Linked DNA regions of Homo sapiens: region 1 is reported to be linked to region 2. The links are microRNA targets in miRTarBase. Many come from high-throughput screens and were not tested one by one. Region 2 holds a microRNA gene; the other region holds the end of a gene's coding sequence.
The links. The annotated mature microRNA hsa-miR-324-3p reads CCCACUGCCCCAGGUGCUGCUGG and lies in region 2 at 1,044-1,066, opposite strand. An mRNA with a match to its seed (bases 2 to 7 or 8) in the 3' UTR can be bound and repressed. Matches are read on the target gene's strand: a 7mer-m8 pairs with bases 2 to 8, a 7mer-A1 pairs with bases 2 to 7 and ends in A, and an 8mer does both.

Region 1: miRTarBase lists SAPCD2 as a target of hsa-miR-324-3p. Seed matches in the 3' UTR shown: 7mer-A1 at 2,399-2,405 and 7mer-m8 at 1,118-1,124.

Annotation. Positions count from the first base shown.
Region 1 is chr9:137,061,978-137,064,977 of GRCh38, forward strand. It overlaps SAPCD2 (suppressor APC domain containing 2), which reads right to left. Exons shown (of 6, transcript NM_178448.4): 5 at 2,886-3,000; 6 at 150-2,810. The coding sequence ends at 2,682. Among named protein-coding and RNA genes, the nearest start is that of SAPCD2, 7.1 kb to the right of the region's middle. RefSeq lists an enhancer at 1,832-2,609.
Region 2 is chr17:7,222,265-7,227,478 of GRCh38, forward strand. It overlaps MIR324 (microRNA 324), which reads right to left and starts at 1,115; the gene lies at 1,033-1,115. It overlaps ACADVL (acyl-CoA dehydrogenase very long chain), which reads left to right. Exons shown (of 20, transcript NM_000018.4): 9 at 1-38; 10 at 403-601; 11 at 869-973; 12 at 1,380-1,466; 13 at 1,549-1,611; 14 at 1,704-1,805; 15 at 1,882-1,979; 16 at 2,057-2,129; 17 at 2,216-2,288; 18 at 2,378-2,450; 19 at 2,545-2,620; 20 at 2,693-3,002. The coding sequence ends at 2,833. It overlaps DVL2 (dishevelled segment polarity protein 2), which reads right to left. Exons shown (of 15, transcript NM_004422.3): 12 at 5,140-5,214; 13 at 4,826-5,005; 14 at 4,157-4,375; 15 at 3,078-4,049. The coding sequence ends at 3,601. RefSeq lists an enhancer at 2,692-3,191.

The DNA of each region.
Region 1 (3,000 bases), not on the chromosome of region 2:
CAAACTCCTGGCCTCGGGTGATCCACCCACCTCGGCCTCCCAAAGTGCTGGGACCACAAGCATGAGCCACTGCGCCCGGCCTAGTCTTCTTTATAGCATTAAGAGATCATGCTTTTCATGGAGTAAGGAACTATAAATACCACTCCTTGTTCATGTTTCCAGAAATCTCTTTTATTTCTTTAGATATATAAAACACTGTTACTTTATATTCTCTCTGATAATTCTAGTATCTGGGTCTAGAGTCAATCTGTTGCTTCTGCTGGGTCTCATAGTGTATTGTTTCCTTGTGGTGTTTATGAATTTTTAAACCTGGATCTCTCATTTTCTTTCTTTCTTTTTTTTTTTTGTAGAGATGGGGTCTCTCACTGCGTTGCCCAGGCTGCTCTGGAACTCCTGGCCTCAAGTGCTGGGATTCCAGGCGTGAACCACCACGCCCGGCTGAGATGTTCCTTTTCCTTGGAACTTGATCAACACAAAATCCTGAGGCCTGGTGTGGGTGTGTTCCTCTGGGGCAGATTCTCAACTGGGGACACTTCTGCCCCCAAGGACACATTTCAACATCCTGAGACATTTCCGGGTGTCATCACAGTGTGCACGCACGTGTATGTACCTGCACACGCTACTGGCACCTCGCGGATAGAGCCCAGGGACGCTGCTCACATCCTGCACGGAGACTGACCCGCCCAGCGTCCTAGGGCAGGCTCCAGGCAGGGTCTGCATGTGCCTCTGCCAGCCACCTAGACCCTGCCAGCCGGGGCCTTTAAATTCTCCCCTCGTGGTCTCCAGGGCCACTCACTAGCCTGATTTCAAGCTGTAAACTGGGAGGACCTATTTCTTTTCACCTTGCACGGAACACCAAGGCTGAAAGGCAGTTTTTCCGGAGGTGCCAGCCTGTCTCACATTTCCGCTTCAGCTGCGGGGTCCAGCTCTATGTGGGCGGTCTCCTGATGAAGTCACCCCGGGACAGACACTGTTCTGTCTCCTGCTTCCAGTCCAGTAAAGATGCCAGGATCCCCCAGGGCATGGCAGGCACCCTCAAAGGCAGACGTGGGGAGGCCCTGGTGGGCAGACCCCAGCCTGCTGACGGGGGGCTTCTCCCTGGCTGCCACTGGCCCACCCACTGCGCTGCAGTCCACCTGGTGCTGGGGCTGTGGGGCACAGGCCCTCAGGACCTGCACCCTTTCCTGCCCAGGAGGTCCAGGCCTGACATCCTTATGTCCCCTGGAAAGCCCACTCCCATCTTCAGGGTAGGAGGGCAGCTGCATGCTGGGCTGACTTGGGCCTGTCCTGGGACACCCCTGCAGACCAGGTGCAGCAGGGAATGTGGCTCTGTGGGGTTGCTGTGGGCAGGTTAGCATGGAGCTGGGCTCCGGAAGGGAGTTGCCACGCTGCCTGCCAGGGCCCCTCCTCTGAGACAGGTGCCTTGTGGGACAGTGTACCAAAGTGCCCTGGACACGAGGGGGCCCTGCGCCCCCCACGCACTGACCCCGCATCGGAGGCCCTGCGCCCCACACACACTGACCCCGCATCGGCATCGGGGGCCCTGCGCCCCCCACGCACTGACCCCGCATCGGGGGCCCTGGGCTGCAGAACCCATCGATGCTGTTGCCGTGCCCCTGGTTCTGGTGACACTGGGACCCTCCAGGTTGGGCTGAGCAGGGCCCCCCCACCAGTGCGTACTCCAGCACCAGCGGGAGTGGGCCTGGGCAGGGGCTGAGGGAGTGACACCCAAGGGGACCTGCCCCAGCCTCCTCCTGTACCCTGGGGGTTCTCGTTTTCCTTGGCTGAGGGAGGTGGCCTCTCCCAGCTGAAACCTGGGGACAGGCTGGGCGTGAGAGCAAAGGGGGGTGAGCAGGACCCCAGGCCTTGGAAATCCTGAGTCGGGGGAACAGGCTTTGCCTATGACGTGCCTGGGAGCTGTCTGGGGGCCCTCCTGGGGAGCCAGGCTCACAGGATGTTGTGTGGGACTCAACGTGGGGCAACGTCCCGGCCAAGAGGGGGAAGGCCATCACCCCAGGGTCTGTGGGAGGCACATGCAGGCCAAGCTCTCGCCCACCCGGCGTGCCGATCCGCTGCAGCCAGGGTCCCTCAGCCTTGGCCAGAACCTGAAGTCCGACCGCTATCCCTGGGGCTCCCCAGCCAGGCAGGCACCCCCCGCTTACAGGCCGTCCCCACCCCCTCCATCTACTTCCGTCCGTCCGAGCTACAGCCACCTCGTCCTGGTGCCCTGGTTGAGCGGGAAGCTGCCCTTGGACCCGCGTCGGAGCCGCCCCGCGCCCTCTGCTGCCCGTTGTTGGAAGTGCAGCCTGGCGTGGGCAGTGCCTTTCCCTGAAGATGGGACCCAGGGCGGCACCGCTGGAAACGGGGGGACGCTAACTCATGGAGGGGTACCCCACTGTCCACTGACAGCGGCAGTAGTAGCTGCGGACTATGCGGACTCAAGAGAGCCCCAGCCCATGTCAGCACCAGGAGCCAAAACGGAGTCAAGCGCTCGGTGCGGGGACCAGCCGGGGGCAGGCCTGGGGAGCCCATCTGGCAAGGGCGGCAGGAAGGCGCCCACTCCGGGACTGTGCCTGGGCCTGCCGGGGGTCTCCAGCCAGAGAGGGTGGGTGCGATGGGGCGCCCACCCTCGAAGGGCTGAGTGCCAGGCTGGCCCTGGGGGCCCACGCGGCCCACAAGGACTAGATGAAGGTGGAATCCAGAGGTCCCCCGTCCTGCTGGCTCAGGGCGCGGGCCTCAAACAGCTGCTTAATGAGCGCCGACTTCTCCTGCTCCAGCTGCGTGATGCGCTCACTCTTCTCGGTCACCTCCTGGGCAGGTGCACAGTTGGTCAAGGCCTGCGGGGCCTCACCCCCACCCCTGCACCCCTCCCGCGCCTGCCCTACCTGGGTGAGGAGTCGGTTCTGCTCCTTCAGCATGAGGATGGTCTGCTGCTGCCAGACCGGGGGTGAGGTGGACGTCAGGGCAGGGCAGGGGGGCCCGGAGGAGGACGGGGGCAGG
Region 2 (5,214 bases):
GCTTTTGTGGTGGAGAGGGGCTTCGGGGGCATTACCCAGTGAGTGAATTTGGGTTGGGGGAGCTTAGGACTGAGGGGCAGGACTGGGCTCCTGGGCAGATGGCTGTTGCAAGTCACCCTGGGGACGTGTGCAAAAGCCAAAGCAGGTGGACTGAATGTGGCCTTTGGGACTAATATGTATGCAACTGAGCTAAAGTTTTGGCTCCAGCAACCAAGTCCAACACAAAATAGGACATAGCCAGGCCTCCTTAGCCCTCAGGGCCTGAGGGGAAGTGGTGGCTGTAGCCTCTAATAGTCTAGTGGTCGTCATTCCTCCCTGGTGCATAAGGAGCGAAGGAGCAGTTTTTCCCCCAGTGACAACCTGTTGAACACACCTCTGCTTTCCCACACTGCCCTGACACAGTGGGCCCCCTGAGAAGAAGATGGGCATCAAGGCTTCAAACACAGCAGAGGTGTTCTTTGATGGAGTACGGGTGCCATCGGAGAACGTGCTGGGTGAGGTTGGGAGTGGCTTCAAGGTTGCCATGCACATCCTCAACAATGGAAGGTTTGGCATGGCTGCGGCCCTGGCAGGTACCATGAGAGGCATCATTGCTAAGGCGGTGAGTACCCTGCCCGAGTCCCTAGGTAACCCAAACAGAAGTCTCACTGTCCCCCTTGCCATGTGTCCCTGATCACTTGCAGGCACTCCCTACACTAGAAACTCCTCCCCTACCAGCAGCCCGACTTGCTAGCTTAGGTCTCCATCCAGCGTAGACTGAACTCTGGTTGTATGCAAAACCCATCCCTCTGGCGCAAGCCCAGCCCCTCTCCTAGGGAGACTGCAGAACCACACTGAACCACAGCGGGATGTGTGGACCCTCTTCCAGGTAGATCATGCCACTAATCGTACCCAGTTTGGGGAGAAAATTCACAACTTTGGGCTGATCCAGGAGAAGCTGGCACGGATGGTTATGCTGCAGTATGTAACTGAGGTGAGGGCCTCCCAAGCCCCTCTCCCTGGAGCCCTGGGGCTTTCTTCCCAGTCGGGTCAGACTACAACCCCCAGCAGCACCTGGGGCAGTGGGTCTCCAGCTTTACACCAATGCCCTAGGGGATGCGGGGAGGCATAGTCAGCTCAGCTTCTGCGAAGAGAGACAGCAATGATGTTCTGCTCAGGTGCCTGCCAGCAGTACCAGAAGTTAATTCTACCTCATCCCTTACATCCACCCCTTTTAAGAAAACAAATACCTGGAAGCACCTGATGAACTGACCCAGAACAAGTATCTGCCTGACCTGACAAGCTAGGTCAGCCCTTATCTTGGAGATCTGGGTGATGAGGCCAAGTCTGACAAAGCCCTTTGCAATTTTCCTTCCCATGTCCCAACTATGCAACCTCAGTCCATGGCTTACATGGTGAGTGCTAACATGGACCAGGGAGCCACGGACTTCCAGATAGAGGCCGCCATCAGCAAAATCTTTGGCTCGGTGAGGTCCCAGGCATGCTGGGAGGGAGTCCAGTTTGGGTGCTCAGCTCCCAAAACCAGTCTCATCTGTTCTTTGTCCCTAGGAGGCAGCCTGGAAGGTGACAGATGAATGCATCCAAATCATGGGGGGTATGGGCTTCATGAAGGTACAGGACGGTCTTCTGCAGAGCCTCGGCTGGGCCAGGGGTGGGTAGGCACATCTCAGCACGGGCATATAATTTGTGTGGCCCTGTGCTAGGAACCTGGAGTAGAGCGTGTGCTCCGAGATCTTCGCATCTTCCGGATCTTTGAGGGGACAAATGACATTCTTCGGCTGTTTGTGGCTCTGCAGGGCTGTATGGTAAGACAGAGAATTGGGTGGGGGTAGAGGTGGGGAGGACAGTGAGTCCTGACTGCTGGACCCTCTTCCCCCATAGGACAAAGGAAAGGAGCTCTCTGGGCTTGGCAGTGCTCTAAAGAATCCCTTTGGGAATGCTGGCCTCCTGCTAGGAGAGGCAGGCAAACAGCTGAGGCGGTAGGCTTAGGGCCAGAGCCAGGGGAGGGCAGGGTGGTGTATGGCAACTAACCAGTCATTCTCCCTCTTCCTCTCAGGCGGGCAGGGCTGGGCAGCGGCCTGAGTCTCAGCGGACTTGTCCACCCGGAGTTGAGTCGGAGTGGCGAGCTGGTAAGTGGCCAGGGGTCCAGGAGAGCCTGCATCAGGGACTGCAGCCGATGGCCCCTCTGAGCCCCGCACTGTCCCCATCTCTTAAGGCAGTACGGGCTCTGGAGCAGTTTGCCACTGTGGTGGAGGCCAAGCTGATAAAACACAAGAAGGGGATTGTCAGTAAGTGAGCTCTACACCATTCCGCCCCTCCCTTTCCTCTCCTTGAGACTAATGCCCCCACCCCCACCCCCACCCCACCTACCGGACAGATGAACAGTTTCTGCTGCAGCGGCTGGCAGACGGGGCCATCGACCTCTATGCCATGGTGGTGGTTCTCTCGAGGTGAGGAGGCAGGCAGGGAATGCCTGAGCCGCAGGGGGCCTGGGCCTGGATCCCAGCCGGCCCAGATTTATTTTCATCTCCTGCTTCCTGCCAGGGCCTCAAGATCCCTGAGTGAGGGCCACCCCACGGCCCAGCATGAGAAAATGCTCTGTGACACCTGGTGTATCGAGGTGAGACTCGGGGCTGCCAAGCTCAGGTGAGGGCTGGAGGTGCAGGCCCAACCCCTCCTTCCCTCTCCCCAGGCTGCAGCTCGGATCCGAGAGGGCATGGCCGCCCTGCAGTCTGACCCCTGGCAGCAAGAGCTCTACCGCAACTTCAAAAGCATCTCCAAGGCCTTGGTGGAGCGGGGTGGTGTGGTCACCAGCAACCCACTTGGCTTCTGAATACTCCCGGCCAGGGCCTGTCCCAGTTATGTGCCTTCCCTCAAGCCAAAGCCGAAGCCCCTTTCCTTAAGGCCCTGGTTTGTCCCGAAGGGGCCTAGTGTTCCCAGCACTGTGCCTGCTCTCAAGAGCACTTACTGCCTCGCAAATAATAAAAATTTCTAGCCAGTCATGCTTTGCTCCTGTGTGACGGTTCTTTCCCCCTGCTGCCTGCCTCCCTCCCAAAGAAAGGAGCCAGAGGCGTGGGGAGTTTGCCTCTATTGCTTTATTTGGTGTTTTATACAAGTGACTAAAATAAATAGAGTAACAAAGGCAGCTACATGGCCCAAATCTCCCAGCTTCCTCAGGCTGCTGTCTAGGATGCCTAACCCCGGGGTACCGCTGACCACCCCCAACCCTGCAAAGGGCAGGGCTGTGGGTAACTGGAGGAGGAGGTCACATTCTGGGGTTAGAAGGGGCCCAATGGATGGGAATTCTTCATATAAAAGAGGAAATGCCTATTAAAAAAGTCCCAAAAATGTAAGAAACTCTATTTTAACCCCCAAAAAGGCTTATAAAAAAACAAAGCTAAAAATAATCAAAGGTCCCTTGTCTACCCCTGAGGGAAGGGGGAGGAACCAGGCACTGCTGGTGAGAGTCACAGTGGCCACAATCTCCTGTATGGCAGCAGCTGGTAGGCTGAGCCCAGGCACTGTAAGAGCAAGCACATGACGGCCAGGACACCCAGTCACACACCAGGAGCGCCCGGCCCAGCCTGGCCCCACAGTGGGCTACATAACATCCACAAAGAACTCGCTGGGATTGCCCATGGCCATGTGGAAGCTTTGGCGGCTGGCTGTCAGTTCTGGGGGCACAGAGCCCAGGTCTCTGACTGGAGGGGCCCCCGGAGGCTGCACTGCTGGAGGGACTGGAGGTGGAGGTGGGGGCATCATGACCACCATCATGGGGTTGTAGGGGAGGGCCATGCCAGGGGGCGGTCCATAGGGATGGAGCCCTGGGTGGGCTCGGAGATTAGGGGCACCCCCAGTTGAGCCTCTGGATGGAGGAGGGCCCCCATCGCTAGTCCCACTTGCTTCCCCACCCCGCCGAAGGCTGCCCCCTCGGCTGGAGGGCTCAGACTCACTGCCACTGCCGGACTTGGACTCGGGGGCCCGCTCCTCGGGCCTCCCCGTGCGCCCTGCCCCCCCATCACTCCGTGTCGACCCACTGCTCCGGCTGCCTGTGGAGGGAGGGGAGGGGCAACTGAGTCCTCACCCAGGCTCCTCCCTGGCTCCCCTCTCATCCACCCTCAGATCCTGGCCGTACAGGTATGTGGGGATGACTTACCCTCACTATGCTGGCTGCTGGCACTGCCCCCACCATAGGTGTAAGATGAAAGCTCATGGTAGGGTGGAGGCTGCGGGCTGTAGGGGTGTGGGGCAGGGTATTGGTAGGAGAAAGTGGGCAGCAGGGGCCAGGGGGTGGCCCCAGGCAGAGGAGCCAGGGTATCCTGGTCTGAAGCCCCACTGGAGCCATCGTTGTCATTGAGAGACAGGTTGACTAGGTCTGGAAAGCAAGGGAAGAGAGGAAGAAATCACTGCTTCAAGAGGCTAGGGCCCCAAGACACCGAATGGAGAGGAACTGGGAACAGTTCTCCCAGACCCACCCACGATGGGGCTCAAAACAGGGGTTCACAAGGGTCTCTGACAAGAAACTCCCATCTACTTCTGCCATGAGGGCAGGGGCACAGCCACTAGCCCACGTCTTTGCGGGACTCAGGTAAGAGGTGCACCTTCCCCCGGTGGACACAGTCCTGCACCTGGCACATGGCTTGTCCAGCAGCACATGGGTGGACGTCAGCCCCCATCCTCGGCCAGTGCAGGACCTAGTGCGGGACACACACTGCTCGACCATCCATGGTGGCCCTGGCTGCGGTTTCTGGGCTAGGTCTAGGGTTGGAGAGGCAGAACAAGGTAGGCAAAGCCACACTCCCAGAGTTGGGGCAGGGGGACTTACAGCTCTCACAGCCACCACTGAGGTCTCCGAAGACGTAATAGCACTGCTCAGAGAAGGTGATCTTGTTGACGGTGTGTCGGATCAGGCCTGCTTTGAGCAGCCCGCTGGCATACTTGCGGGCCTCCCGCCGCTCAGGAAAGCCCTCCACGTGATGGTAGAGCCAGTCAACCACATCCGAGCCTGGGAGCACCCACAGTGGAAAAAGGCCTCAGGTTCTTCTTCCAACTCCTGCTCTCGCCTCTGCCTGTGCCATTCCTGGCTTTGGTCACCACCTCCTCCCCTTCTCCAGCCACCTGCCCAGGACCCAGCCATACCCAGAAAGGCATTAGGGATGGTGATCTTGAGCCACATGCGGTCCCGGACTTCCAGTCCAGACTCTGGAGCTGCCA